3 separate regions of the Homo sapiens genome follow, and all the other regions are linked to region 2. Evidence: fine-mapped expression QTL. A gene starts in region 2. Each other region holds a variant in brackets. All regions are shown on one strand. Distances are from middle to middle. Region 1 overlaps PELO-AS1 (PELO antisense RNA 1). Region 2 holds the start of ITGA1 (integrin subunit alpha 1). Region 3 overlaps ITGA1 (integrin subunit alpha 1).

What was found.
Region 1: its variant is fine-mapped to the expression of ITGA1 in visceral fat (GTEx, PIP 0.95). The same link has a PIP of 0.9 or more in breast.
Region 3: its variant is fine-mapped to the expression of ITGA1 in tibial nerve (GTEx, PIP 0.98).

Annotation. Positions count from the first base shown.
Region 1 is chr5:52,758,564-52,768,939 of GRCh38, reverse strand. All of the region lies in intron 2 of PELO-AS1 (PELO antisense RNA 1), which reads left to right. Among named protein-coding and RNA genes, the nearest start is that of ITGA1, 24 kb to the left of the region's middle. The variant A/G (reference allele first, on the strand shown) is at 5,035.
Region 2 is chr5:52,782,495-52,792,870 of GRCh38, reverse strand. It overlaps ITGA1 (integrin subunit alpha 1), which reads right to left and starts at 4,955. Exons shown (of 29, transcript NM_181501.2): 1 at 4,457-4,955. The coding sequence starts at 4,517. It overlaps PELO (pelota mRNA surveillance and ribosome rescue factor), which reads right to left and starts at 4,955. Exons shown (of 3, transcript NM_015946.5): 1 at 4,457-4,955. It overlaps PELO-AS1 (PELO antisense RNA 1), which reads left to right. Exons shown (of 5, transcript NR_186455.1): 2 at 7,279-7,336. RefSeq lists an enhancer at 4,988-5,267.
Region 3 is chr5:52,892,004-52,902,379 of GRCh38, reverse strand. ITGA1 (integrin subunit alpha 1) reads right to left here. Exons shown (of 29, transcript NM_181501.2): 9 at 8,540-8,705; 10 at 4,852-4,925; 11 at 3,997-4,141. Among named protein-coding and RNA genes, the nearest start is that of ITGA2, 92 kb to the left of the region's middle. The variant T/C (reference allele first, on the strand shown) is at 4,974.

The DNA.
Region 1 (10,376 bases), 24 kb after region 2:
AAAAAATAAGTAAATAAATAAAATAGTAATAATAATAATAAATAAAATAATGTTTCTGCCAACAGTTCAGTCATAAATCAAATAGGAATGTGGGCAAAATTGTATTAATATTTGCTTATTTTAGGTTGTCTAGAATTTTATAAATGGGTTTTGTTTAGATCATAGGAAATTATTGGCATATGAGGCAATACTTTTGTCTGTTGCCTCTATTTTGGGTGGGGTAGGTGGGTGACATTTGTATTGTGGCAAACAAACACTGCAGCATACAGGATACAGGTGCACAAAAGCTCAGGGTAAATAAGAGGAGCTAGAGGTTGTAAAGAAATATTCTACAGCAGGTCAACTCTGTCCATCTGACTTCCAGTGCAGACAGTCTGACATTTTTAGCAATATTTTAAAGACCAAAATAATGAAGTAAGTGTTTACCAGAAAGAAAGCTGAGAAGTTGGCTCAAACTTTGAAAAATTAATTTTGCTTTTTTCAGATAGAGCACTGTGATGAAAGAAGCTTTCAACAGTTTATTCAGATTCCAAGAGAATGTTGGTGTGCCTAGTGTCCAAATTCACCAGACAAGTTTTGCTGTGATTTTCCAAGCTAGGTTCATTTCATTATATGACAAAGGAAATGATCACCATTGTAAATAATTTTTCTGCCTGTGACCATATCTTACCAGTTTATGCAGGAATTTCAAGCAAAGTATGAAAAATTTGCTAATTTTTGTGCTATCAGGAAGATAGGAGGTGAAAGCATGTTGAAAAGAATTTAAACTACAAATTGATACCAAGGAATTTTTGGAGTTCAGAAAATCTGCAAGAACCAACTTGTCGGACCCCCCAGGACTCATAGTATGATTCTTGTTTCTTACTGATGTAAGAAGAGAATGCCACAGATTAAACTTAAAGTTAAGGGACAAATAAGCTAGACAAGAATAGCTCTGCTTTCTTTAAGGAAGTGAAATATTCACATTCAAACTGAACTTGTGGATTGACTCAATGCACATTTATTTCCTTTTTCTGATATTCCCTGAATTCAGTAGAGTTATAGATTGCCTAGATATACAGATATGTTGGGGTAAACAAAGGCCCAGTTATAGAGGAAGTTCTCAAGTTACAAGAAATCTGAAACACACTTTAAGTTCTGGCAGAGGCTCTTGGAAAATAAAGCTCAAGTTTTTTTTTTTTTTAATAATTACAGAAATGTGGTATATCTATAAGCCACAATATCCAAAGAAACTGATGAAACTGTGTTATGGTTTGAAGGTGTTCCCCAAATTTCATGTGTTGGTAACTTAATTCCCCAAATCTTATGTTGATGGTATTTGGAGATGGGAGATAGGAGATAATTAGGAGTAGATAAGGTCATAGGGTGGGGCCCTCTGATGAGACTGGTAACTATGTAAGAAGAGGAAGAAAGACTTGAGTTGGCATGCTGTTGCCCTCTCCTCATGCGATGCCCTTCACCATGATATGAGGCAGCAAGAAGGCCTTCACAAGATGCCAGTACCATGCTCTTAGACTTCTCAGCTGCCAGAAATGTGACGAATACATTCCTTTTCTTTATAAATTGCCCAGTTTGTGGTATTCAGTTATAGCAAAAGAAAATGAACTATGACAAACTGTAAGTGAACTTTTCTTAACAAGATGACATACTAATGCCATTTGGGAGATGAGTATATCTGTTTTGAAACTAATGATATACTCAGCTTATGGCCAAACACCTAGAAATTACCAACATAAATCAGAAAGTCATCTTTGGTGATGTTAACCTAGATTCAGAATTGGAGTGAGTCCTGAAAAATATTCTTTATCAATTTTAGGAATAAAAGATTCAACCCACACTAGTGGATTTCTGGTTACATGATGTGACAGTTAATATTGAGTGTCAACTTGACTGGATTGAAGGATGAAAAGTATTGTTTCTAGGTGTGTCTGTGAGCGTCTTGCCAAAGGAGATTAACATTTGAGTCAGTGGTCTGGGAGAGGCAGATCCACCCTCAATCGGGGAGGACACCATCTAATCAGCTGCCAGCATGGCTAGAATAAAAGCAGACAGAAGAACATGACAGGGTCTGATTTGCTGAGTGTTCTGGTCTTCATCTTTTCTCCTGTGCTGGTTGCTTCCTGCCCTAGAACATCAGACCCCAAGTTCTTCAGCTTTTGGACTCTTGGACTTACACCAGCGGTTTGCCAGGGGCTCTCAGGCCTTTGGCCAGAGACTAAAGGCTGCACTGTCAGCTTCCTTACTTTTGAGGTTTTGAGACTGGGACTGATCCACCACTGGCTTCCTCGCTCCTCAACTTGCAGACGACATATCGTGGGAGTTTACCTCTTGATCGTGAGTCAATTCTCCTTAATAAACTCCCTTTCCTATATACATATATCCTGTTTGTTCTGTCCCTCTAGAGAACCCTGACTAATAGACATGGTCATTGTTGAAAATTACCTGAAACAAGAGGCCGACTTGGTTAGGAGTCCCTTAGCATAGGCAGTTCCTTGAGATGTGGGAAAAAAAAAAGTAAACTTTTTAAAAATATAATTATATAATCTAATTTAGGCTAATATTTATATTCTGAAAGGGAATAATCTCTTGGTCACAGAGGAAGCTTTAAAAAAACATGAATTTCTCAGTAGTTCTTGTTTTGTTTTCAGAGACAAGGTTTCACTCTGTTGCCCAGGTTAGAGTAAGTGGTACAATCGTAGCTCACTGCATCCGTGATCTCCTGGGCTCAAGTGATCCTCCTGCCTCAGCCTCCCAAAGTGCTGGAATTGCAGGCATGAGCCACCATGCTCAGCCAGCTTTTTTATGTACCATGTGGTCTCATCTTACTTTCTGTTTTTGTCCTGTCTGGCTGTCTCCTCTATTCTCATTATTATCTGGACAATCTCATTAAATTAAAATTGAAATTTTAAACATATAAAAATTAAAATCTTATAACATCAAAAATTCAAAACAGAGCAAGTCTGGTTGCCATAATAAAAAGCTAGGTCACTCCCTAGCTTAGTGGGTTCAAGTTGTAGTGCCCTTAGGCCAAGCGCCTGGCAATGTCACCATGAATGGCTACTTCTTTGCAAGGAACAACTTACAACTGTTTCATTTATTGTGTAGTTGGTGGGTGTTAATGTGTGTTGTGTGATGGGTTGGTGGTGAGCAAGGAAGCTGCAGAGACATTAGGCATGAGATGTGTCTACTATGAGTTAGGAGTATTAGTAATAGTCTTTAGAGGAGAAAGCAAACAGGAAGCCCACAGCTTTCAATTACTATATATGAAGTGAGTTAATAATCATGACTATAAAATAGGAATCACAAACTCAAGTAAGGCTATGGGCTAATATATGAAAAAAAACAACTAATTTTAGTTGTTTCTACACAGAAACATATTGTATGCATATTAAAACATAATAATATAATTAATACAATATAATTAATTTATAAAATAAATGTGATTCTTCTCACTGTATTCTTTAAATTCATTATCACCTTAGTTTATTTTTTCCCCAATTTTGATGATGACATGAAGACACAAAACTATTCTACTTTAGTAAGATAAAAATGATGATCAAATTAGTATTGATTGGAAACTAACATTTTCTGGTGAAAAGGACAGAGAGAACTGGGGTGAACAGAAAACTCTAGGCCTGTATAAAGGGAGTAGTTGCTACTTGATCCAATTGATTGCTGCCATTTAAGAAATGGGCTTGTATTGCAAGATCTTCCAGTGCTCTAAAAAACAAAGACATTTGAAATGTTTTAAAATTAGAAGTCTTCTTTTATGTGCTTTTTTTTCTTCCCCTGAAATCCTCCAGGAAAAATTTTTCAAGGGAAACCTATTTGGGGGGTTGAAAACTATCCATGGTTTTCTAGCTTTTTAGCCATGTCTTGGAGAAGATATGCTAAAGTTCTCCCTTTCTTTTTATATTTTTCGTAGATTTATAACTCTCTATCTCTTTTTTTTTTAATAAGACTTTATTACCTACACATTGTGATGGTTCATTTTATCTTTCAACTTAACTGGGCCACAGGGTGCCCAGATATTTGATCAAACATTATTCCTTGTCTTTAAGGTACTTGTGGATGAGATTAACATAAGTTGGTAGACTGAGTAAAGCAGATTGCCCTCTCTAATGTGGGTGGGTCCCATCCAATCAGTTGAAGGCCTGATTATAACGAAAAGCCTAAATAAGAGGGAACTTCTCTTACCTGACTGCCTTCATGCTAGAACATCAGTTTTTTTCCTGCCTATGGACTTGAACAGAAACAATAATTCTTCTTGGGTTTCAAGACCACTGGTTTTCAGACTGGAGCTATATTACCAACTCTCCTAGATCTCCAGCTTGTTAACTGCAGATCTTGGAACTTCTCATCCTTCGCAATTGCATGAGCCAATTTTTCATAATCTCTCTGTCTCCATACACACACACACACATATATATATATATATATATATATACACACACACACACACATATATTTATAATATCTACCTATCTCTATATATGTATATATGAGTTATTATATATATAAATATATATATAAAGTTCTCTCTCTCTATATATATAAAGTTACTCATTCTGTTTCTCTGACAATCCTAATACACATAGTGATTAGAAAAGTGGGCTTGTTGGGAGATTGAAAAGGAGTTGGCTTCCAGGGAAACTCAATTTAATAGACTGATTTTTGAGCAGATATTCCTCTTATAATAAAGTAAATAGTGAGATCTTAAAAAAAGAAAAACAAACCAAATCCTTGAGATTTGAAATCGGGAAGAAAGAGGTAAGCAGAAAAGATTTGTCAAGTTATATATTTTTGTCACTATGTGACTTTGAGCCAGCCACCTCCCTTCGGTGTAAGTTGCAGCATCTGTGAAATTAAGGCCTAGACTAGATCAGATGTTTTCAAACTTGTCTCAACTTAGAGAACCTACAGTTAGAATTCTGTTTTCCAGATATTATAGTTTTAGTGGAATGCCATGTAATCATTATTTTTAATTTTTTTTAGACAAAGTAGGGGAAATTGCCCTAGTAGAAAATGTAATTC[A/G]ATATAGGCAAAAATAGAATTACAACCATTTGATCATGTCTATGATAAATCCAGCTATTGCAATAAACATTTCTAGGATTTTCTATTTCTATCTGCTTGCTTCTTGTTTATTAATTTTTGACATCTTAAAATGCTTGTTAGTTGTATTAGTCCATTTTCATGCTGCTGATTAAGACATACTTGAGACTGGGTAATTTATAAAGAAAAAGAGGTTTAATGGACTCAGTTCCATGTGGCTGGGGAGGCCTCATAATCATGGAGGAAGGTGAAAAGTATGTCTTACATGGTGGCAGGCATGAGAGAATGAAAAGCCAAGTGAAAGGGGAAACCCCTTATAAAACCATCAGATCTTATGAGACTTATTCACTACCATGAGAACAGTATGGGGGAAACTGCCTTCATGATTCAATTATCTCCCACCTCACCCCTCTCACAACAAGTGGGAATTATGGGAGCTACAATTCAAGATGAGATTTGGGTGGGGGCACAGCCAAACCATATCATTAGTTAAGTGATTGCAGTGCCAATACCGTAAGAGAAATTTATGAGAAAAAAAATTGAGAAAACTTTTTCTATTAGCTTTATGTTTTCGGAAAATTGGATAAAATATTGTGTTACTTTATTTTATGGTGGGAAAACTTGGTCTAGCTATTGTGGGAACATAGTTTGAGGCCCACTGGAGTAGTGTTTCTTATAGCCTCTCCCAGCTGTAACATTCGATGTGTCTACAATTTTTTTTTCATCTTGGAATAAATGTATGTTTTACTTTAACTAAGTGACATAATTTCCATGTATAATGTTTGTATTATTTTCTTTTATATATATACATATTTTTTATTATACTTTAAGTTCTAGGGTACATGTGCACAACGTGCAGGTTTGTTACATATGCAAAAATGTGCCATGTTGGTGTGCTGCATCCGTTAACTTGTCATTTACATTAGGCATATCTCCTAATGCTATCTCTCCCCCCTCTCCCCACCCCACAACAGGCCCCAGTGTGTGATGTTCCCCTTCCTGTGTCCAAGTGTTCTCATTTTTTAACTGTGGCCAAGCAAGATTCATGACCTCTTAGTTGGAGAGAAATTCTCTTACAAACAAAATATAGCTGTGGGCTAATTTCTGTTGTTGAAATTGAGGAAAAAAACATTGGAGGACAAGTGCAATAGTTGAAATGCATGCAAACTTTGTCCTAACAACAAACCTTTAGTGGTTTAAAACTTCTTTTTCATCAACTTTCCACTCAGAAAGCTTTATTCTTCATTTTATTTATTTGTTTTAGTGTCTACTACCTATTAAGAAATTCTCTATATGTTGTGGATAAAGCAATGAACCAAACAAAACAAAACAAAATCCCATCTTAATGGAGCTTATATTTTGGTGGAGAGAAATAGACAATCAATAAAATATAAAAAATAGTATTTTAGATAGTTAATAGTTTAATGGAGGAAAATGAAGCTGAACTAGAGAAAAGGGTGTATGTGAGGGGTGTGAGTGGCAAATTTAAGACACGGTAATCAGGAAAGGTTTCATTGCAAAGATGATGTTTGAGCAAAGGTGGGAGGAAGGTCTATCTTAGTTCTAGCTGTTACAACAAATTACCATGGACTGGGTGACTCTACAACAAACATTTATTTCTTATAGTTCTGGAGGCTGAAAATTTCAACATCAAGGTACCAATAGATCTCATTTCTGCTGAGAGCCCTCTTTCTGGCTTGCAGATGACCATCTTTTGGTTGAAACCTTACATAACGGAGAGCATAGAGAAAGAGATCCTGTGTTACTGCCTTTTCTTTTTTTTAAATAAGGGTACTAATTGTGTTATGAAGACCCTGCCCTCATGACCTAATCTAACCTTGTTACCTCCCAAAGGCCCAATCTCCAGATACCATCACAATGGAAATTAAGATTTCAACATATGAATTTGAGGGAGACACAAACATTCAGTCTATAAGAAGGTCTATGCTAGAATGTAGGGTAAGAAACTTATAGCAGAAGGTCCCTAAGGCAAGAGCATCCTTGGGAAGTTCAGAAGACCACTCTGTTTGGAATGGAGTGATTTAGGCAGACAGTGGTAGAAACATGAGGTCAGATTATATAGGGACTTAAAGGCCATTTAGATGATTTGGCTTTTATTCAGAGATGGAAGCTAGTAGAGGATTTGGGGTAGAAGGGTAGCATTAGATGATACATTTTTAAAGAAATTTTATCATTATTATTATTATATTTGTACAGACATGGCCTTGCTATGTTGCCTAGGATGGTCTCAAACTCCTGCACTCAAGTGATCCTCCTGCTTCAGCCTCTCAAAATGTTGGGATTACAGGTGTGAGACACGAGGCTCTGCCAGACACATTTTTTTAAAGCATCACTCTGTGCTCTTTCCAGATATCGTACAGTTTTAGTGGAATTTTATGTAATCACTATTTTTGATTTTTCAGACAGCGTAGGTAAAATTGCATAAGTAGAAAATATAATTAGATATAGGTAAAATATAATTACAACCATTTGATCATGTCTGTGATTGTATTAGTCCATTTTCATACTGCTATGAAGAAATACCCAAGACTGGGTAATTTAAAAAGAAAAAGAGGTTTCATGAACTCACAGTTCCACATGGCTGGGAGGCCTCACAATCATGGTGGAAGGCAAAGAAGGAGCAAAGTCAGATCTTACATGATGGCATGCAAGAGAGCATGTACAGGGGAACTCCCCTTTATAAAACCATCAGATCTTGTGAGACTTATTCACTATCACTAGATCAGCAAGGGAAAAACCCGCCCCCATGATTCAATTACCTCCCACTGGGTCCCTCTCTTGATACATGGGGATTGTGGGAGCTACAATTCAAGATGAGATTTGGGTGAGGACACATCCAAATCATATCAATGATAAATCCAGCTGTTGCAATAAACTTTGCTGAGGTTTTCTATTTCCATCTGCTTGCTTGGTGGAAATATATACTATATGTCCAATACTGTGCTGTGGCAAGGACTGACACAAAAAGAGAAGTGAAAAGACAATTTCAATAATCCTGTTATGGCATGATAGTGGTCAGAACATGGTGAATGTGATGAGAAGTTGCTAGGTTCTGAATGTATTTTAAAGATAAAGTCAATAATATTTGCTTGAAGAGATCAGATGTGGGGTGTGAGAGAAAGAGAGTTGTTGAGTGTGACTCCAAAGTCACCAAAGGCAAACTTTCTTATTTGCAAATATTTCTGTGTAAATCTCAACATCTTGTGAAAGTATGTGATTATATTACACTCCTTGGAGTTCACTGTCAGTAGCCCGTTGTTCCCTCTTCGTTTCAGAGGATAATAAGATCAGAGCCAGGACTGGGACCCACATCAAGATTACCTACAGCCTGTTGGGTTACAAGGGGACTATCTACTCCTATGAGTTCACCATCCTCCTATCCTATATGGTCCATAAATTTCTCTCTGATTTTTGCTACCCTTGCATGTGATTGTCCATCTGGTGCCCTGAGCTGATTCATACCAGTCCTTATACCAACTTATATGCTCTGTCTCCCTGGATCCAGGGCCATCATCACACTTATCACCCGAGTCTTCACTTTAGTTGTTACAATAGGATTTTATCCAGAGTAAGTTTACAAATACCTGGGGCATGAATGATGGTTGAAATTTGCTCTGTGAGGAATAAGCAGGTAAAGCCCCAAGTGCTAAACAAATGTTAATTATTTATTATTATGGTTGTAATTATAGAGATGTATTCAAGGAGTAACAATGATTTAATCAAGGGTTTATTCCTGCTCTGTAGAGCTATCCTGCCCATTACAGTAGCCATTAGCCACATGAAGCTATTTAATTTAAAGATAATTAAAACTAAATAAGATCAAAAATTTCAACTCCTTAGTCCCAGGCATATTTCCATTATTTAATAGCCACACATGGCTAGTGGCTACTGTATTAGACACTGCAGAATGAGGAACATTGACATCATTGCAGAAAGTTCTATTGGAGAGTGCGGCTCACCTGTGTGAGAGGAAGTCAGAATTGGGGGGGTCACCATGCCATTCATATGAACAAGTTTTCACCATAGGTGAGTTGTCCTTCCTTATTTATGTGGAAATCTTTGGGAATTTCTTATGCCAGTGACCATAAGCTACATCTCCAAGGGCTTTATCACTATTATTATTTTATCATTATTACTATTATGTTTGTACAAACATGGCCTTTACCTTTATTCCTTAAAATATCTGTTAAAGGCAATCTTATGTGCATATGTGGGCGTGGGAAATCAAGAGCCTCACCACACTGCCATGAGGTATTCTTGGCTTTGGCTTGGTACAGCTCATAGAATTATTCAAATGACCCTTCCCTGAACTTAAAAAAATTAATGTACATTTTAAAGAAAACAAATCCCACATGTTTTAGTGTATTTATACTTGTTCTTCCAGCTTTTGGTTTGAAGAGGACTGTGGTATCTGAAAAATCTTTGGGAATTTTCACATGAAGGTTTACATTAAATTTCTTCTCCAAAAGAGGAAGTTAGGTTTGGTCATTGGTAAAGTATCACAGAATCCCAAATGTTTTGTTTTGCCTTCAAAGCTCAGATTTGTCCATTTAGAGTGGGTGTCAAACTTGGCAGGAAATCTTCTTTCATTCATGGAGCTTAGATCATTAACAAATTCTTCTAAAAAGAGAAAGGATAGTGTTGAATAGTTTACAGTAAAAATGTTCAATTATTAATTATCATTTGTATGTAAATTGCAAACTAGGGACCATACACACTGTTGAGACTCTTCAAAAGGGCACAATCTGAGCTGGGGAAGCCCACCACTAATTGTCACCTTGGTGATAATGCAGTGAGCAAGCAAAGCTACAGTTGAGTGCCATCAGACTTTAGGATAACATCTGACATCATCCAGAGCTTTGTGAAGTAGCCCCGCCAGACAGTCATTACTAGCATAGCGGATCCCATGACCCTACTACTCTGGCTATCATTGATGGGTCTACAGTGGGCCCAAAGTTGGCTAATACACTGAAAGGTATCCAGGCTTGTAGAGCTCACTCCTTATACTGGATGGTGTTTGGCCAGTAACACCAGTTCAAAACTAAATTACAAAATTCCTACTATACATTGCGACTCACTTTACATCAATTATTATGCAATCACTTCCTTTTTTTTTTGAGGTGGAGTTTTGCTCTTGTTGCCCAGGCTGCAGTGCAACAGCACAATCTCGGCTCACTGCAACCTCCGCCTCCCGGGTTCAAGTGATTCTCCTGCCTCAGCCTCCCGAGTAGCTGGAATTACAGGCATGTGCCACTACGCCAGGCTAATTTTGTATTTTTAGCAGAGATGGGGTTTCTTCCTGT
Region 2 (10,376 bases):
TGCTCTGAATAGGCAATCTATTCTGACTTTAGCACTGTGGCAACAGTTTCAAAATATCTTTCATCTCAGTTTCTTAACATGAATTTGAGTACACTATTTTGTATTTCACACAACAGAAGAGAAGTGTAGGTAAAGAATAGCATTTTAGTCCCCAACTTTTCTAAATATATTTTAAACATGAGCTACTTTATTCTACTAAAATATGTTAAGATGTGGAAATTCAGCAAGTTCTAAATCTAGTGGGAAGTTTATTGGGTTGGAAGTGGAGGAACATGTTAGAGGAGCATCTATCTACTGAAGTCAGAACATCAGTGATAAGCTGTGGCCCAAGAGCTCATGCTTCAAAATAGCTGGGTAAGTGTTATGACAGGAGGGAAGAGAAATAGTTAAACTAGTATAGCATATATATGTGTCTCATGGTTACTCTCATTGCCTGTTTACTAAACAAACAAAAATCCCGTGAATTCATTGCTGCCTTTACAAACATCACAATGAGTAAGACAATTTTCACCATCTTCAGCAATTCCTGACAATACATTGTCTGCCATTGGGAGTCATTCTTTGTTTTGAATAAGTGGCTGACTTCCTCCCCATATTCAGCCATCTCCCATCTCCTCACTGGATTTCATTTTGAATAGGAAATCTTGCCTGTGAAAAGAAGACCCTTGCTTCTAGGCCAACCAAAATGTTTCTAGGGAAGAGAGACATATAGTTTAATTAGGGCTAATTCTATATTTATATTCTTAATAACGAGAAATAGTAGTCTTACTTGAGTTACACTTAATGCTGTACACCTAAAAATCATGGAAATAAAAGATTGACTTGTATCATTAATTAGGTCTTTATCCAAGTATTTTAGACAACTATGTTTGGATTTCACATTTAGAGGAGTGAGCAAGAGAGAATGAACTTATCTTTAGGCAGCCAATATAGCATATTATTTTAGAGCATTTAATTTGAGGTCAGAGATATGAATTGAGTAGATTTGTCATTAGTTCTTCAACTTTGGACAAATGAAATTAACTTCTTAATACTATATTTTGATTTCCTCATCTCTAAAATATTGATAATAGTTATAAAGTTTTAATTTTTTCTTTTCTTTTTTTCAAGGCTAATCAACAAGCTGAGGGAGTGAAAAAAGAACAAAGAAATCTGTGACTGCTTGTGATCAATTAGTAAACTTAATTTTTTAGATTAAAATGAAATAATACATGCAAAGCCCTTGGCACAGTGCCTTGCACATAATACATTTCGGGGTTAAGTTGTGCTAGCTATTCTGTTATTGATTGTCTTGCCCTTTGTTCTCTGGAAGGTTGGATCTTGCCATTTGGGGATGGCCAATGGGAAGGCTGAGCAAGACATCAGAGGGTGGGAGGAAAGGAGGTATATTTATTTTCCTTACTCCTTCTCTGCTGGGCTTCAATTTTGTCACTAGCTGCATTCCTTTTTATGACCACAACTCCAGTCTAATGGCCACCCTCCCATAACTAGAGTTCATAATCAAACTAACACTGCCACCTCCTCAGGCCTAGGAATGGTCATGGTTTTTCTTCTCACCTTGCTTCAGGTTCTTTTTTCCCTACTGTTGCTTGCGCTAGATGCTCCACCCTCTTTTCTTGTTCCTTTAAGGCCTCTCTAAACTGTCACTTTATGAAACTGTCTTCAGTTAAATCCTTTATATGTGACATCAGTTTATGCTGAGACTTTGACATACATAAAATAACAATCCTTTGGACATAAGGACATCTTTTTGATGAATCATTTTAGTAAACGTTGTAAGGAGCTAATATAAGACAGTCTAAATCAAATAGGAAGTTTATTGGGATGCTGGTGGCTTGTTGTTCTGATGTAAACCCAGTTTGGAAGGCTGTAGAGAGTTTATTTAGATGTCAGAGGGTGGTAGGATGGAAAGGTGGAATTCTTTTCTCGATGTATAAAACAAGGTCATATCTTCAGTGGCAAAATGAACATGAGGATTATGGAGAAAGTAAAGAAAAGTGATTGGCTATAATGGACAGTTTATGCTTATGGGTTGTGGTAGGCAGAATAATGGTCTCCCAAAGATATCCATGACCTAATGCCTGGAACCTGTGAATATGTTATCTTAGATGGTAAAAGGGACTTGGAAGATGTAATTAAATTAAAGATCTTGAGATGAGGAGATTATTCTGGTAGGCACATTGTAATTACAAGGATCCTTAGGAAGGTAGTAGGGTCAGAGTCTGAGAAGGAGATGTGATGATAAAGCAGAGTCATGGGGGAAGATCTGAAGATTCTACCCTGCTCGGTTGAAGATGGAGAAAGGGGCCACAGGCCAAGAATGCAGGTGGTGGCCAGAGGCTGGTGAAAACAGGGAAACTGATTTTCCCCTAGAACCTCCAGAAGAAATGCAGCCCTGGTGACATCTTGATTCTAGCCCAGTGATACTTCTGACCTACAGAACTGTACAATAGTAAATTTATGTTGTTTTAAGCTGGTGATCTATGGCAAGTTGTTACAACAGCAATAAGAAACTGACATAGGAGTAGTAGGAGATAGAGAGAGGGTGTTGGATTAGGGCAGTCAGTTGAGAATTTTGGATTTTATCTTAAAGGCAACAAAGAACCACCAAAGATTTTTGACTAAAAACAGATATAGTAAAAATGATGTATTAGGAGGGTAGACTGGAAGTTGGGTTCAAATTGAAGACAGAAAGATAAGCTCTACAGTAGTGTGCATGGATAAGTATGGTGATGAGTCCCCAGGTTACAAACGGACTCTGAATTGATGAGAAGTTTCCAAATCTGAAAGAGATTGCTAAAGAAGAGCCTACAGAATATAATGACTGATGGGAAAGCAGTCCAATTTCAGATCCCTCATGTGTTGCGAAATGGGCATAAATATAGTGCACACAAGGTTTCTAAATATTTTAAGTCTCTTCCTGGATTCACCAATGTATATTTCACCAACATATATATGAAATTGTAACTTGTTAAACTTCTCTGTTACTTCAAGTTTCACTCTTGTCTTTTTAGAGGATACGCAAACCTCATTTCATCATTTCTACTCTAGAGACTGCTTATTTGGTAGAATGAAAAAGTACAACTTGGATAGTAAACTACTGTATTCAGATTTTGCACAAAAACAACAAAATACAATCTAAAAAAATTTGAGTTGGAGAAGAATCATAGGTCAAATATGTGTAAAAAGTAGTGGCAGTAGCTGGTAAGTTAAACCACTCACCGGCTATAATGCTGTTCAGCAGTTACCACTGTTTGGATTATTGGACATTTCCTGAGTAGTGGGAAATGTTTGGATGAAAAGCCAGTAGCTAATTATTAACTCTCTTTACATTACCTCCCTTCTGAAAAAAGCTCTGCTTGCTGATAATCAACTTCTAAATCATCTTCATAAAACTTAACAATGCTTGGCCATCTAAGGCAGGTCTAAACTAGCTGGCTCTACCCTGTTTTTAGTGGTAAAAATGCTAAATTAACTAGTACTAATAACCATGCCAGCAGTAAAAACACTGAACAATTGAATATCAATGATATGTTAAAGCCAGCTGTTAATTAACCCATTAATAAGGTGATTTTCTTTCACACAGAGATTCTATCGATACACTTTCCCCCCACCTTCTTCCATTTTTCACCATTTCAACTTTCCCCCACCCCAATCAGTAACTGGTAAAAAAGATCTGACCATGAGTTCATTATTGGGAAAATCTTACAAAATGCTATATTTCAAGCTTTTTCTAAATTGGATACAACTTTGCATTTCCACTATGTTTTTAAGTCCCCTCCTTAAAAATACACATTTATGTACAAATAACAATACTATATTTTGCATCTTAAAAGTAGACTGCCCTGTGATATTTACAGAGAAAATGTTCACCATTCCTTTCTACGTTTCAAAATATCCCTCCTCTTGGGTGCTGACATAGAAACATCATTTTGGAACAAGTGGCAGTTTCGTCTTGCATCCCTGCCTTTTCTTGTTCTGCATGGGAAAAAAGCCTAAATAGTAGACAGCAAGAAAATTCAATAATGTCCACTCTGGAACAACCCGAGGGTAGGAATTTTGCATATGTATCAGGCGCCCTATAAGCATCACCCTCCCATCCCATGCCATAAAAAAGGGTGGAGGGGAGGAAATATTCAGCAAAGTCCTAATATACAATGTGTATTGTAAAAACAACTTTAATTTTAAAAGTGAATTCTACCTTCTAAGGTTTTCAGTGCTGCCTCACTCCTACTCCTAGGGTGAAGGACTTTGGAGAGACACGAAAACTAATTCATATCAAAACCAGAACGCGAAACTCCTGCCTGCCCCGTAGCCTGGCCTGAGTACCTGGAATGCCCGAAAGTGGATGGGCGCTCTCTCTTCCTATCTGGCCCATGGCTCTGAGGACCTCCCTCCCCGCTCCAAGCCCCAAGCCCGCGAGCAGGAGATGCTCAGAGAAAAGCGAGTCGCTCACCAGTGAGGAGCCAGCAGCAGGCGACAGCGACCCCTGGGCGGGCGCGGGGCCGAGGGGCCATGGCCGGAGCAGCCTCAGCGCCAGGGGGCCGCGCTGGTTCGCAGGGCAGGACCGGGCGCGGGAGCTGCGCTCTCTGGCTGGGCCACTTATCCCGCTGCCGCGGTTCCCAGTCCTCTGCCCCAGTGGCAGCGGCGCCCAGGAGCGGGAGAGGAGTGATTTCCTGTGTTTTCGTCGAATTCCTCTAAATGCGCTCCACGCTTTTCACATCCCAGACGGATTGCCACATCGCCCGCCCCTTCGCGCTCTTGGTCTCTGAAATCTCACTGGCAGCTTCCCAGGCTCTGTCCGAGACATGGACAAATAAAGCCAGCTTCGCGGGTCCGTGTTTAGGCTAAAGTCCACGGGCTGTAGAAGCAAACCTTAAAGGGACATCTGCCTTTCATTGAGAGGGTGATCTCGTTCTCCGGGCCAAATCCCCTAAGGTGGTAGGAAGGCGGGTAAGGGCTGGACCTTCGGGAGGGTGTTGCCAGCCCAGTGGCTCCGCCTTCACACCCCTTACTTCTCCCGGCCCGGGCAGGGAGGGCGCTTTGACAGTGCCTGGGCGCCCTTAACGGGAGGCAGCTTTCCCGGGTCCATTGCGCAGAGGGATTAGGCCGTCTGTGAAAATGCGAGGATCTGGAATCCCCCCTTCCATCCCCTGCGGACACTTGAAATTCACCGTGAAGTCGTTTTGCACGAAAGGGGGCGTCCCCACCACCCCGACAGGCTCCACTGAGGGCTTTGCTTTCGCTTATGGGGGGGTGGGGGGGTTGCTTCGTTTATGGTAATTCGTGGTTAAAGGGTGGTTGCAGATAAGCTTTTCTTTGAGATAACTAGGATAAGGGGAGAAAAGGAGAAGCAAGACGGAGGAAAAACAGTAAGAGGGAGAGCGAGAAGGGAAGAGAGGAAGAAAAGCAGCCTCCTTGGAAATGGAATGTGTGTGGGCTATTTTGTTTAAGTGAATTAGGATGTTTGTACGCTGGTAATTGAATCTAATAAAGAACTCGGGGCACTACTTTATTTTTTTCTTGCTTGAAACTTTCACGAGTGAAAATGCATTAAGAGTCCAGAAGTGCTTAGGAACTTGCAATGCTTCCCTTTCCTGGTGAGTTGAACAACCTCTCTGAGTCAAAAGCCATATTCACCCTAGCTTCAACCAATGCTGGCTATTTTCAAAATAGCTGTGTCTTAGCGGTTTTGAGAATTTCAAAGACAGAAAGAATAAGTGGATTTGTGTTTAGAGGAATCTGAGGGAAACAGTTCAATTCAATTCTTCAACTCAACAACTAATTGAGCATCTCTAGCAGAACTAGGGCTAGGCAGGACAAGAGTGCCACCCAAAGGAGGGTTCGTTGAGCAGAACGCAACACAGGTAGCACAGAACAGGTAACACGAGGGACAGGAAGGAAGAAGCCCACAGGGTTCACTGGATACATTGCCAGATAGAGGATCACAGCAACTAAAAGCTGGAGAAGACAAAAGTTGAAGAAGTTTAAGGAGCGTCAAAAATGGGGTGGGCAGACCCAAGGAGGTTGAAGGCCATCAGATCTCAGTATGTTGACCCATTAATCAAGAAATTCCTTTTCTATTATGTATCTGAACTGATTCACTATTTAGTAAATACATTAAAAATCTCGTTCTCCCGTTTTTAGTTTTTATAATGTCATTTCTCAGTTCTGTCTTCAAATTTACACAAATGAGTCTCTAGAAAAATTGTATTATGTTGGGTCACAGTTCAATCCCATTGGACTTTACTTAAGTTCCTTTGTTTGTGTTCAATGCTCTCATACCCTGCCAAGGAATTCATTTCCTGTGTATATCTCGTTTCCCTGTTGGTAGTATCAGTTATGTCTTATGCCTCTCAGTATGACTCTCTGTGCTTTGAACAGTAACCAATAGATATTGATTAATTCGTAGACATTTAAAAATCATAGTAAGTACTTTCCCAATGATATTTCTCCAAATTGCTTAGTTTTCAAAAACATATAATAGTGTGTCTATATATACACAATCATGTGTATGTATGTATGTGTACATATATATGTACAGCATATACATACATATGCAAATACATATATGGCATTTTAGCAAATTGCAATATATTTCATTAGAAAAAACAAAAAGAAATTGTAAAATATTGAAATAAAGTAGGGTTAACATATAATATGTTCAAGTTTACAATTACTGGGAAATTTACCTTTCTTCTGGGGGCTAATATATAATTTCAATTTTAATATTTTTATTTCCTCTAGGACTTACAAATTATTGGTGATAACCATCACTAACAGTGATATTGTTACAATTAATTTTCACAAGTTACAAATTTTATGTTTACATGTTTACATATTTATGAATCTTTTATATGTCTAGTCAATACAAATGTAGAGACTGAGAGATAACTATGGTTAGAGAATTAATTTTAGAATCAGTGCTTATTTTCTGAACTTCAATAAACCCAAATACAAATAAATGTCAAGCCGGTTATTTTCTTAACCAATTTTATTCTGACTGACAGAAAGACATGTCATTGAGTAAAGATTTAGAGAAGACAGAAACTTGCCCAGAGTCACAAACTAGTTATTGATATGAGACACTTGATGACAAATGTTTCAGCTCTAGACTTTATACTACATACTTTTCTATTTTAAATGAGACTTGATTTGATCAGATCTCTTTAAGGGTTTGGAAGCATGAGTAGGAGCATGAACCTTATTGTGAACTGCACACGCTTCTTATGAGAATCTAATGCCTGATGATCTGTCACTGTCTCCCATCATCCCCAGATGAAAACGTCTAGTTGCAGGAAAACAGGCTGAGGGCTCCCACTGATTCTACATTATGGTGAGTTTTATAATTACTTCATTATATATTATAACATAATTATAATGGGAATAAAGTGCACAATGAATGTAATGTGTTTGAATCATCTTGAAACCGTTTCCCCTACCCCTGGTCTGTGGAAAAAATGCCTTCTATGAAACCGGTCTCTCTGCCAAAACGGTTGGGGATGGCTGCACTGAAAGATTAGAGACTGAACTGATTAAGAATTTGGAAAGTGGATGTCTATGAAATGAGGCAAGAGTAATTGAGATTATTAACCAATAATCTCAAAAAGAAAAACATATACTTAAAACCAAAGTATTCTTCTTGGAGTTAATCTAATATACTGAGTAAAGTAACTAGAGTAAGTAAGGTTCTGGAGTTACGCTGCTTGGACTCAAGTCCTGGAACCACAATATAGTAGCTGTGTGATTTGGGAAACGTCATCAAGTTTATCTAAGCCTCAGTTTTCTCAAATGTAAAGTGGGAATGAAAATACTGTACTACTTCTGGTCTGAGAATTGCTGTGGGGATTAAATGAACCGAGCCTCTGAGCATTTAGCACAATGCCTGGATTAAAGTAAGTGCTCGGTTAGTATGAATCATTCTTCTCTGTAAATAGAAGAATTGGTATTAAACAGACCATGTAAACAGGGCAGGCTCTGCGTGTGGTAGACCCTGTAGGAAGTGGTGAAATTTGATGGCCATCAGAAGAGGAACTTTAATGTCCGCCTAAAAATATCTCCATCAACTCCTATTATTATTTCTGGAATCCTCGCTTTAAAAATATTTACCTTGGATTAGGGAATTATCTTGAAGATAGTTCTATAAAATGGGTATGCATGAAGACATCAGAACCCATTATAACGTTCACATGAATTTGCTTTTCAAATTGGCTGGCCGTCAGAGGTTTTTTTTTTTTTTTTTTTTTTTTAATTTTTTTACAAGAGAAGAACATTCCGCTAAGAGGTTGGGGGAATAGAAGAGGTTCTAGAACTCCGTGTCTAATGTATGCCAGGGTTCTTTAGCAGTAAGATTATAGGTTCTCAAAGCTACAGGATAAATAAGGTACTCCCACCTGGGTAGTGGGGGTGGTGCTGATTTTACTCAAAAATAAATAATTTAAAAATTGTTGTTTGCTAAAATAACAGATTTTTATAAGAAATATTTTTAAATCATGTTTTCTTTTTAAAAGTCAAATATGAGATTTTAAATACATTTTAAGGTAGCATCAAAGTGTGGTTTTACCCCAACCCCATCCCCTCCACTCTCAGGTGTTAGGGGTAGGTGGAAGTGTACAGAACTGCTTCCGTTTTTACAAAGATTTTATGAAGATTTGGATTTTTAAGTTTTAGTATGTAAGCACTTAGGGGAATATACCCCAAAACAGTGGGGCTAACTCACAAAGCTAACTCATATGGAAAACTTAGTCTAGTTCAATAATTTTTAATTTTCTGGCATATATTGGGCTCCAGGGCTATGTTCTGCAGAGGCAAAAATGGATACAACAGTTGTTATTCCACTGCAAACCTGCTGTTCATTAATTTCTTTCACTTGTAACTAGGAAGAGAAAATAAGTAGTTTTGTGCTCAATTGTAACATTGGCATATTTCATTTTAAGCCTATTAAATTAAACAGTCTAGTGAAATTATCCTAATAGTTGTTGTTGATATACCTTGAGAACCTATGATTGCTTCCTCTCTGACCAAAATAAAGTCACAGTGATATGGAACTTAAACTTCACCATGAGCCAACCATTTGTTTTTTGTTATTACGTAATATTCCTGTGTGTTTTTTCACTTAAAATATAAAATAGGTGTTTCTCCCTCCCTATTTCCTGAACAAGCCTGTGCCAGAAACCTTGTCCAAAGACATTTGGGCAACTGGTACTTAAGAAAAAACAAAAAAACAAAATACTTGACTTCAGAATCCTGGTGAGGAACAGTTCTCAACACTATAGGAAACTTCCTTGGACTTACTGGCAGACTTCAACATGAGTGACACACCAGGGCTGCAGCAGGGGAGGGTGGACCAGGGTGGTGCCCTGGCAGGAATGTTCAATTCGTGGCATTCTATGACTCAGAATAACAACCACTGATGAGCAGTAACATTTTAGCTGCATTGCTGGGTCCCTTAATTTGAAATATGACTTAATTATATTTAAGCTGTTATGCAATTCTAGGATCATTTGAACAGGTTGATTTAATTATTTTCTTTTAACCAATTTGTAAAAAGTTAAATAAAGTAAGTGGGCTCTAAAATCCCAGAATTACAACAAAAAATGATTAATTAGTATTTCAAACCAAGGAGACTGGCATTTCTTGTGGTAGGACTGGGTCACTAAACACATGTGTGGGGAAATACCATTTGTCTTTAATACAAAATAAATGCATCAAGGGAAGGGAGTCTATTATTTGGCTCTGAGATAATAACACTTACATAGCTTATTTTACAATAATGTGACCATTTTTTATCTTCTCTCCTAGATCATAATCTATACAATGATAGTAATTACTAATGTTTGTTCTCTGCAGCATCTGTGCTCATGTAATGCACTGAAACACTTACAAAGTTACTTCTCTGCAGGAGGAAGTCTCTTAGATCCTGGGGAATCAGAGATGTTGAAGTGCTAGGCCCTAACCTCAGGAATATTCACAGGCTACGTAGAGACAACATACATAGAATGATCTAATTGCATCTGATCCCTATAATAGAGAATAAATAAAGTCAAGGCTTTCAAATAGATGATGGCACTGAAATTTAACCTTGCAGGGAGTGGGCAGGGGATTTTATAGGTAGAGAAAAAGGTAATGGGCATTCTATGCAGAGGTAACATGAAAATAGATGAAGAGACTGGAATAGAAGTTAAGAAAAGTGAGTGAAGCTGAGACCAGATTGGAAAGGATCTTAGAAAGATACCAGGGAATTTGGGCTTCTTATAAGCACAGAATATTTTCACAGTTCTTATTGACATATACAAACAAGTTTTTTATTCTGTTTTTGTTTTTCTCTCTTATTTGTTTTCTGAGGTGGCTTGATTTTTATCTTAGTTTTGTAGTAG
Region 3 (10,376 bases), 110 kb before region 2:
CAGGAATAGAATTCAGCAAACTGTGGGTGGAGGAGGCAGGGGAACATAATCCCAGCTGTATTTTCACCACCAAATTCACTTGCAATGCCTGTATTGGCATAAGGCAGTTTGGGTAATAGAAAGATGGGGTAGGACTATGTCCTGAGACAGATGTTTGACAGCTTGAGTTCTTACAGTTTCCTGATCCTTATTGATAAGCATGGGATTTTTCTAACAGAGCCTCTGCCTCTGCTTCCTTCATAAGATTTTTCATAGCCTTACAACTTGCAATCCACACAGTTTATGAAAAAATACACTCAGTCTCTTCTCAATTTGTGACCCCCACAAAGAAACATTTTGAAAACTTCATTTCAGATTTAGAATATTATTTTGGGTGAAAAAAAACACAAGGTATTTGTCCTGCCTTTTCTGAATGCTTTTCTATTTTGAAAGAAATCTTACATGTATTAGACTTTATGTTGGCAAAATGTCATATACCCTCACTTGTGAGTAAGCTAATGAAATAATTTCTGAAACAGAAAAGAAAATCTCAGCACACTGTAGAAAACATACCCAAAAATTTCCTTTTTGGACAGAGAGAAGTCATATATTATAAATACTGTGCTCAGAAATAAGATTCTTAATATTTTCTTACTTGCAGTGGCATCTTTAAGTTGAATTCTCCACATCTGCTTTAAGCAACGTTTAACCAAAGGTTTTTGGGAATGACAAATTTAGGATTCTTAAGAGTTTATTTACTTTAAAGGAATTTAATCACATATAATTAAGAATACCAAAAACTACAGTGTTATCAATTAAAATGTGTGGGCTTCCTAAGAGTGGCAACAATATCATACACATCTTTGTGGACTTCACACAGTGTCTTTAAATTTGTAAATACTCAATACTTATTAGTAATAGTACTAATGTCAGCTACTATTATTATTTTGTATTATGTATGAGTTTTCTACTGCTGCTGTAACAAATTACCACAAGTTGGTGGCTTAAAGCATCATGAACTTTTTATCTTACCATTCTGTTTATTAGAAGTCTGGCATAGAGCTTCCTGGACTAAACATCAGGATATTGGCAGGTCAGTGTTCCTTTCGGGAGCCTATCAAGGAGAATCGGTTTTCTTGCCCTTTGTAGCTCTAGAGCCATCTACAGTTTTTGGCTTGTGGCCCCCCTCCATCTTTAAAGCCAACAACACTGCATCTCTCTGACCATTTTTCCATAGTTCTGTCTCCCTCTGGCCACATCCAGGAGAGGTTCTCTGATTTTTAGAATGCTTGATTGTATCAGGTCCAGCCAGATATCTGAGGATAATCTTCCAACTCGGGATCCTTAATTTCATCATATCTGAAAAGTCCCTTTTGCCATGCAAAGTATGGGTCCAGGGATTAGGACATGGACATCTTTGGGGATCATTATTCTGCCTACCACAATACTAATAAGAGGAATGTTTATTATATAACATTACACAATAAAAAAATACATAATAACATTTACATAATAAAATAATAGACAACACCCATTGAGTGTTAACTGTGTGTCAGGCACAGTACTAAATATAGTCATTACTTAATCTAACAACCCAAATGATATATATGGTGTAATTATTTCCATTTTAGAAATAGGAAAATTGAGGCTTTGAGGGGGAGAGTAATTTGCCTAAAGCCATAGCCAGGGGCAGAATCAGAAAACAAGCTCAAGTCTCTATGACCTCATCGCTATCGCTAATTGTACACCTTGTACCATAACTGCTTCAAGTCTTTAGTATCATAGAATCAGCAGCTTTATAATTTTTATTTTTATGGGTGTGTAATATTCATTAAGTGGATTTACTATTTACTTAACTACCTGCATATTTTCGGGCATTTAGGATAATGGCATTTCCCCCAATAACATAAATAATAATACAATGGAAATCATTGTTCACTTGGCATTCTTAAATATTGGATTTTTTTCCCTAGGTTAGGTCCACAGAAGTGAAATTTCTGTATAAATGTGGTACGAACATTTTTTATAGCTCTGTAAACACATTGTCAAATGCCTTTCATAAGGAGTTTTACTAATTTATATGTCATCCATTATATAGGAAGATAAATGTTCTATATTTATTCTACATATAACAGAAGCCTCAGGTTAAGCTGGTTCTTGATTCCAAGGTATTTCACATAAACAGTCTCATAGAACCTTAGGATGTAATGAACTTTTAGAAGATATCTAATCTAATCCCCAGCCCTCTTTTTTAGGTATTCTGTGTCATAGCACATATCATACTGATAGTGATTGCTTGTTTCATTATTGTCTCTCACCCAAAAAAGTAAGGTTTATCAGTGTAGGAACTGACCTGCCCCATCTATCTTTTTATTCCCTATAAACTCAGTGTTTGGCACATTGCTGGTACTCAATATTTGTGCAGTGCTTTCTTAATCAACCCAGAATCAGTTATTTTGGTATCGTGATATAAACACTGACATAAGAATCAAGAAGCCTCAATTGTGGTTTCACACCTGCCATAGGCAGCTGGGACATAATTGTTCTATCTCTCAGTTTCTTGATTGGAAATTAAGACTACATGCTCCATAGGATCTCTTTTAATGCTAAAATTTGAAATGAATTTTAAGCCTAACCCCTATATTTTATATCACAATCCTCCAAATACCTAAAATACATGCAATGCACACTTTGTTTTCTAACCTTCAATTTCTTTAAGTTTTCGAGAGAGTGAGACTTGTAGCAGGGAATTGCTTCGGGAGCTGACTTTTCTGTGTAATATTTTACTGGCACATCCTAGTTTGTCATTTTCTCCTTGTAGTATGTGATACTTAGAACAACCAGATACTCTAGCTGTTGTCTGACCAGAGTGGAATGTAACAGGATTTCTATGAGAAACAGACTGGACTTTCATTCATGCAGTTCTACATGTCTTAAGAGATTTTAGCAGTCACAGTGCAGCTGCTGTTGACTGTTACATTTTTAGTCATCTAAAACTCTAGTCCTTTTATTCTTCTTAAGTCCTGCTGCTCCTACAGCTTTAATAGGTGTCCTTCAATAAGGAGATGTATAAACACCGCAGTAAAGACCTGCCACCTTCCTGATAAAATAGAAAGCAACTGGGACAGAGAGAAAAAGACTTGTCTCCGGGACAGAAAGATCCCAGAGAGGAAGGCTAACACGTGAAGCTGTGAATGCTTCCAGGCCAAGGTATGTGTTTTCTTTATCACTTTATTCCCAGCACTAAGATCAATGCCTGGGGCAAAAGAGGATCCCCCAAATATTTGTTGAGTGAGTAAGAGCTGGGAAGCCATATCCTGATGGTCCTTTTTATTTTAGGTCCTCCCAACTGTTGGTGAATATCTTTTTTCAGTGAGGGGAGAGTTCCCTGGCATCCCCCAGGTGTTGCTCAGCTTGGTATAGATCCCAAATAAAGTGGTACCAGACATACAACTCCTCATTTCTGGCAAGACACTGGGAAACAAGATCATGTTATATCACTGGGTTTAAGTTCAATATTTGTCTGATTGTGAATGGAGCTATTAAAGAAGAAGTTACATGACAAAATACATTTTTCTTTTCCCAAATTAGGACCCATAGAGAGAAATTAATGATAGAAGACATTTAAGACAATATGAGTTTGGTTTTCAGGATATAGGAGAAGTCGAGGTTTCCTTTTCTACTCTCATTTCTTGTCCACCAGGTTCAAAGTTCTCCTTGAAGTTAAAGTTGATACCAGACACAGAGAAACTGAACATATCAGAAAGGGCACATATCAACCTAAACCATTCCCTGCATTAGACAGCCCTACTAACAAAAAAGGACCCCCATGTATGTCATTTTGACTAACTAAAGCTGCTCAGAGGCCTAAAACTTTGCATGGGTTCTGGAAAATACCCAACTTGTTGAAATAATCCTGCTATATGGTTGCAAGCCTATAGAAACATAAGCAAATAATGCTAAAGGTAAAAAATGGAAAAGTAAAACAACTCTTTTATAATTATATCCAAACCTTACCTAAATAAGAAGCAAGCGGTTCATTCTTTTTGGTAGACTCAACATTAAAGGTTGTGTTTCGAGGGATTATGATTTGACTAGCCTTCTGCATGACAACTGTTCCATTCCAATCATAGGCTCCTACTGCTCCAAGCATGACCCAGTCCTTACATGCAAATAAATAAGATAATAATATTTAATAAAAATAATAAGGGGAAATACTTAAACACCATTAACAATGTGTATAGGTATACTGTTCAAAGTGCTTTACATTTGTTAGCTTATATAATCCTCATGATAACTCTATGAGTTAGATGCTATTGCTACCATACCTGTTTTACAGAAAAGGAAATCAAGGCACAAATAACTTACCCAAGTTATACAGTAAAATTGCACATGGAAATGTCAATATTCTTTTGCAAGGACCATTATGCCTTTTCTTTCATTAACTGCAAATGATATATTTTCTAATCTTGTCTTTCTACTTTATTCTGGGTGCCCAGCATCCTAGGTCTTGAACATGGAATTCTAATAAGACCCTTGAATTCCTTGACCTGTGGAAAAATATTCCACATCTGTAGCAAATATGTTAAATTATTTCATTTAGACAGATACATAATTACAAGGCAAAGCTCACACTGTCTGATTCACAACTATTAGTACAATGTAGTGAACTGTGTGAGAGAACATATTTTCTTAATAAGAAGCTTGTGAAATGATATTTTCCTATTTGAATTAGAAAACATCATCATAGCCTGCATAATTGTTCAAGCTATGAACTGCACGTTGCACTTACATACTGATGGCTAGATGTTGGTTTTGGGAAGGGAAGTCTTGCAAACATATATTTCATTTTTCACCAACTGGTCAACATACCTGTGAATAATGAGCACTGAAGCCAGTCTGAGACATTTCCATTTCAAATGAAGCTGCTGACTGGTCAGCTGTGGCTATAACATAGGAAAATATCACTGTAAATAAGTAACAATGCCTTTTCA[T/C]GCACTACTGACTTGCAGAATACAGATACCTGGTAGAGCTTGTGGTCTTACCAACCAGAACTTCAAACATCTTAGGGCATTTTCAGCCATACATTTCTCAACCCAAAATTTCTAGGTAGGCCTGGGTAGAAGACAGAGAAAAATAGTCAAAGGGCTCATGTCTCAAATTCTTGTTCATTAGCAGCCCTGTCCTCGCCAGAGGGGTTGAGAAATCTCCATTCTTATACTGTAGCATGTTGTGGATCCTATGGTGCTTTGGGTCCACAAGGCTCAAGTTGGATGTACTACAGTAGGAAATTCCTGTCCAAATTCATGCCTTGGGAACCCTGCTGAGCCCTTAGGCTAAACTCCCTTAATATGTTATGGGACTGAAAAAAATTTCATTCACATATTTAAAGAGGTTTCTCAACTCCATCAGTCCCACCCATATTCAGGCCATAGATTCTGTCAGAATTTCATTGTGTGATAAAGGGTTTAGGTATTTTAGTATGCATTTATTTGCTCTAATTACTGGTGGTAAGTATCACTCACAGATCCAGAGGGGTCTTTGTGATAGGGCTGCCCACATGCCATTCAATCATACATTTTTAAAAGATCCTGTACCCATTTTGAAGCTCTTTACTGAAATGCAGAGATAATTCAGAGCATTCCATGGCAGTCTGCTACTCTCAAATTATTCTCAAAATATTCACAAACCCAAAGCCACAATTTCCTGAGGGAATTGATGGAATGTTGATTTATTTGCTTGCACTAGGGGTTACTGATTTATTTGGCCTTGCAGATAAGTTAAAAATAGCACTTAAGAAAGTCAGTCTGCCCTTTCGTTGAGGCAAGAGAATAATCAAATTTGTGAATGTAACTATTTGTTAGTTATTTACATGGATAAAATTGTGAACAAATACATCAGTAATTACCTTTGTAGGACTAGATTAGACGCGGCAGTGAAGAATTCAAATATATCATTTTAATCTCTTGTGTGAATTGCCCTGTAATTTAAATGACTGAGATGCATTTTAACTTTAATTTAAACATGTATTTTCAGTCCACAATGCTTTCAGGTGTTTTCTCACTTATCTGCAAGATCAATAAGAATGCAGCAACGGAAACCTGCATTATTTTCAGCACCTGCCCTGCCGCTATTCTGCCTTCAGCTGAGAACAGACAGAAGGACGCTATGTGATGTTCTTCCTGCTGCAGTGGCATCATGGTAATAGACCACTATATTCTCCTGGGCTTCTTGCTTCAAACTTCTCCCTGGACTGTTCATGGGTGTTTGGGCCAGCCACTCTAACCACTGTGCAGCCTCTGGTTAGAAATGTTGGCATTTTCTCCCAGTGCTCAACGGGAAATGGAGACAGTAGACTATTTTCTGATGTACTAAGCAAGTCCTTGGCATACTTGCCTCAATAGATGGCACTGTCCTTGGCAAACAGAAATTTCATAATCACAGCTACTTGTCATCTTAAGATACATGTTGACAGGAAATGGAGATTTCCCGAGCAACAAAGAAATAAAGCCTTTTTAAATATCTCATGAAAAAAATAAGAAATAGTCTAGTCAAAACACTGCTTTTGGTGTAGTGTAGCAACAAAGATGATATAGAAGACATTTGTAATCTGTAAAGTTCCTTATAAAATGATGTCATATTTAAATATAGAGACTTCTTGGAGTGTTTGGGCTCTTCAACCTGTCACCTTTAATCCATGGTGTAGTTAGGTTAGAAATAATCTGAAATGTCATTTCAGGCAATTGATCTCCCCCTCCCCTAGCTGAAGTGGGCTTCATTTTTGCCAGTTTTAGGTTACTTGCTTACTTAAAAGGAGATTTAGAAATGACACTGTATTCTGTTGAACTATCAAATGTAACTATGTAACTTTTCTTTTAAATTATTTTTACAGATTGTTTCTATCATATCTTAGCCCATGTTATTAAAAATTAAAAGTACACAATTAGTTGGAAGACCTTATGTATTTTCCTTAAGGCCAGCCAAGCTCATAATCTGGTTTATTGGTAAATGACACCGGGAGAGCTGTTGAGAGACCAAAGCCACTTAAAAATGACTTGTACACAGAGCACAAGACAGCTGAGTTCTTCAGAAGCAGCTGGGACTCCAGACTCATAAACAATTAGAGTGTTCTGTTTCTAAAGGCACAGGGGAAAGAGGCCAGGGGAAAAGGGAGGCACAGAAATTCAGTCTGGCTGGCCTGTAGATTCCTATCACCTCTAAATCAAATGTTCTAAGTACGGATTGTGACCCAGTCATGAAATCAACAGACTGAGTATAGCCAGCATTTTTTTTTCATTGAAAGAGATTAGGGTAGAATGGAATTGATGAGAAACCATCACAGTGCATCACATGTAATAAGAATTATCTTGTGAAACTTTGCCTTATTTTTATATGTATATATTTATGTGCACTGGGTCAAAAAGCAAAATGTAGTTATTATCGTGAGTCACACTCAAAAAAAGTTTGAAAGCCATAACTCTAAATAATTATCTTTCCTTTCTGTACATTTTCATATTCTAATTTTTCTGCATTTTCCCAGCCCCTTGACGCTCAATCAAAATGGTCTACTTTTTTTCAGTTGTGTCTCATTCCCATTTTGTCTTTCTGTTTCCTATTATCAATCAAATCAGGGAAACTGAGAAAGTGCTTTTAAATTTCTATTGTTAAGATGTAGAAACAACAGTCTTTCAGTGTGTCCTCACAAGGACAGGGTCAACTGGATTTGGATGTAGCCTAAGGGGAAAAGAATTCTCTGGTGGTTTCTCTCCCTAGTTGGAGAAAAGGCGCATGTTCCCTGAGACTAGAGATCATCAAAGAATGTGAAGAAAGAAGCTTTGCCAGTTTGCCTGGCATAACAATTCTGAAGACTTTTTTTTTTTGTTTTTTAGGAAAGATCGAGTTCCAAAGTAATTAGCTACTTGACATCCTCTACCTAAGGCAGAATAGGGAATGCCATAACTCGTTATCCTCAACAGCCAGTCACCATTGAAAACTCAAGGAAAAATCTGCAAAGAAGTAACATGATTTAGACAAATACAGTGAACCAATGTTTCATTGCCATGGATTTTAAGGCAAATTTCCATGAAGACCTTTAAAATGGGCAAGGAGCAAAATACAGAGAAAATAAGTGAACAAAGAAGTTATTGCATAAGAGCACTCTTGTAGTAGCTCAATATGAAATGAAGAAACAAACAAACAAAAAAAACCCAAACCAGAGGTAGTACCCTCATTTTCCAAATCTATGTAACAGAAAAGGAACAAAGCACATGGAAACATTTTTGTCCTGGCACATCTACATTGACCATTGTCTTCATCGGCTGTCCCATCAGCACTGCCCTACCATGCCCTTACAAAGAGAGTCTCTAGCAGACACAGTGTTGTGAGAAACAGCCATCTTAATGGCAGATTTATATAAAAGAGCATTGTTCCATGCTAGATATTGTACACAGTAAAAAAAAAAAAAAAGTATTACTGATGTATTAGGAATAAATACAAAAATCCCATTATACTGATTTTGAATTGCAGAGAGAACATGCAGCAATAAGATAAATAGACATACCTTCCAGGGCAAATATTCTTTCTCCCAGAGTTTTAACAATGGTGACTAGAGCCAATTCATCAGAGACATTGAAGAAATGCTTTTCAGTGGGTTCACTTGCAATTGATTTTATTTCCTCCACAAATTTTTCAGTGCTTAAATTTCCTCGGTTATAGCTGCCAAGAATCTAAGACACAACAGAAACAGCAAGAATATATTTTAAATTCTATGTGTTAAATAAAGGATCTCAAGCATTTTGTCAGTAAACAACAGTGTAGAGTACCTTAGCATAATGGAATTTTTATGTACTTTCATATTTATGGAAGAGTGATTTTCAAAATTTGTAGACTCCCTAATATTAACTGTTATATAAACACCACAATTGGTGTAGAAAAATATAAAGGGCAATTTTGTATGTCTGTGAAAATTTCTCCTCTTGTACTCTGTGTCCCTGTTACTAACAGCTGTATTTTTAAAATCTGACAGTTCAAAAGTAATGTTATATTCATAGTTTCTGAATGTCTTTGATATTATTCCAGCTAGTGATGTCATTATCTGCTGGCAAAGGCAATCAGCAAGTGAGTTGCCTGCTTTTGAATGAGCAATTCTTCCTGAAACTATTACCAAGGCACAGTCCAGCACATATATATTTTAAACACATACTGGACTAAGTGGTAATCTAAATTGGCAATCTGGAAAATAAACAATTGAGATATTCTTGTTTGAAACCAAATGCTGGAGACAGGGGCATTCTTTTTTATGAAGAGGAGAGAGAAGCAGGAGTTATATATGATTGTTAACTATAATTATTTAGATGTCCAAGCAGGTTTTCTCAAACATTTAGTTTTTTTTTAAGGTAAGGTTTATTGCAATAAATTATATACAGTAAAATTCACCCTGTTTAGATGTACAATTCTATGAGTGTGACAAACCAATATAGTTGTGTTACTGCCACATCAAGGTGTAGAATATTTACATCACCCCAAAAAGTTCCCTCCTGCCCCTATAGTCAATCCCTTCCTCCCCTCGTTCAACCCTGGCAACCACCGATAAATAATCTGTCCTTATAGCTTTGATTTTTCCAGAATGTCAGATTTAAGGAATCATATAGTATGTAGCCATTTGTGTCTGGCTTCTGTGACTTTGTACAATGCTTTTCAGAGTCATCCGTGTTGCTGCATGTAGCAGTAGTTGGGTCCTTTCTATTGCAGAGTAGCATTCCATTGTATGGATGCACCACAATTTACTTAATGAGAACATTTGAGTTGTTTGCAGCTTCAACATATTATGAATAATGCTGCTGTAAATATTCACATGTAGGTCTCTGTAATAGACATATATTTTCTTTTCTCTTGAGTAAATAACTAGAAATGAAAGTGCTGGGTCATACAATAAGTGAATGATTAACTTTTTAAGAAACTGCCAAACTGCTTTCCACAGTAATCGTCCCATTTTGCCATTTTACTATTCCCATCAGAAATGTCTAAGAGATCCAGCTGCTTTGCATGCGTGTCAATACTTGTTATTGTCAGTTTTTTTTGTTCACTTGTTAGTTTTAGCAATTGTGTTAGCGTATAGTGGTGTCTTATTTAATTTGCATTTCTCTAATGACTAATGATGTTGAGACTCTTTCATACAATTATTTGCTATAGTATTTCTTCCTCGGTGTAGTTAGTGTCTGTTCAAATCTTTTTCCCATTAAAAGAAAACGAGATGTTTATTTTCCCTTAAATGTGTTGTAAGAGTTCTGTATATAGTCTGGATGCAAGTCCTTTATGTGTTTTGCAGATGTTTTCTTCCCGTCTGTAGATTGTCTTTTCATATTCTCAACAGTGTCATCTGAAGAGTAGAAGTTTTA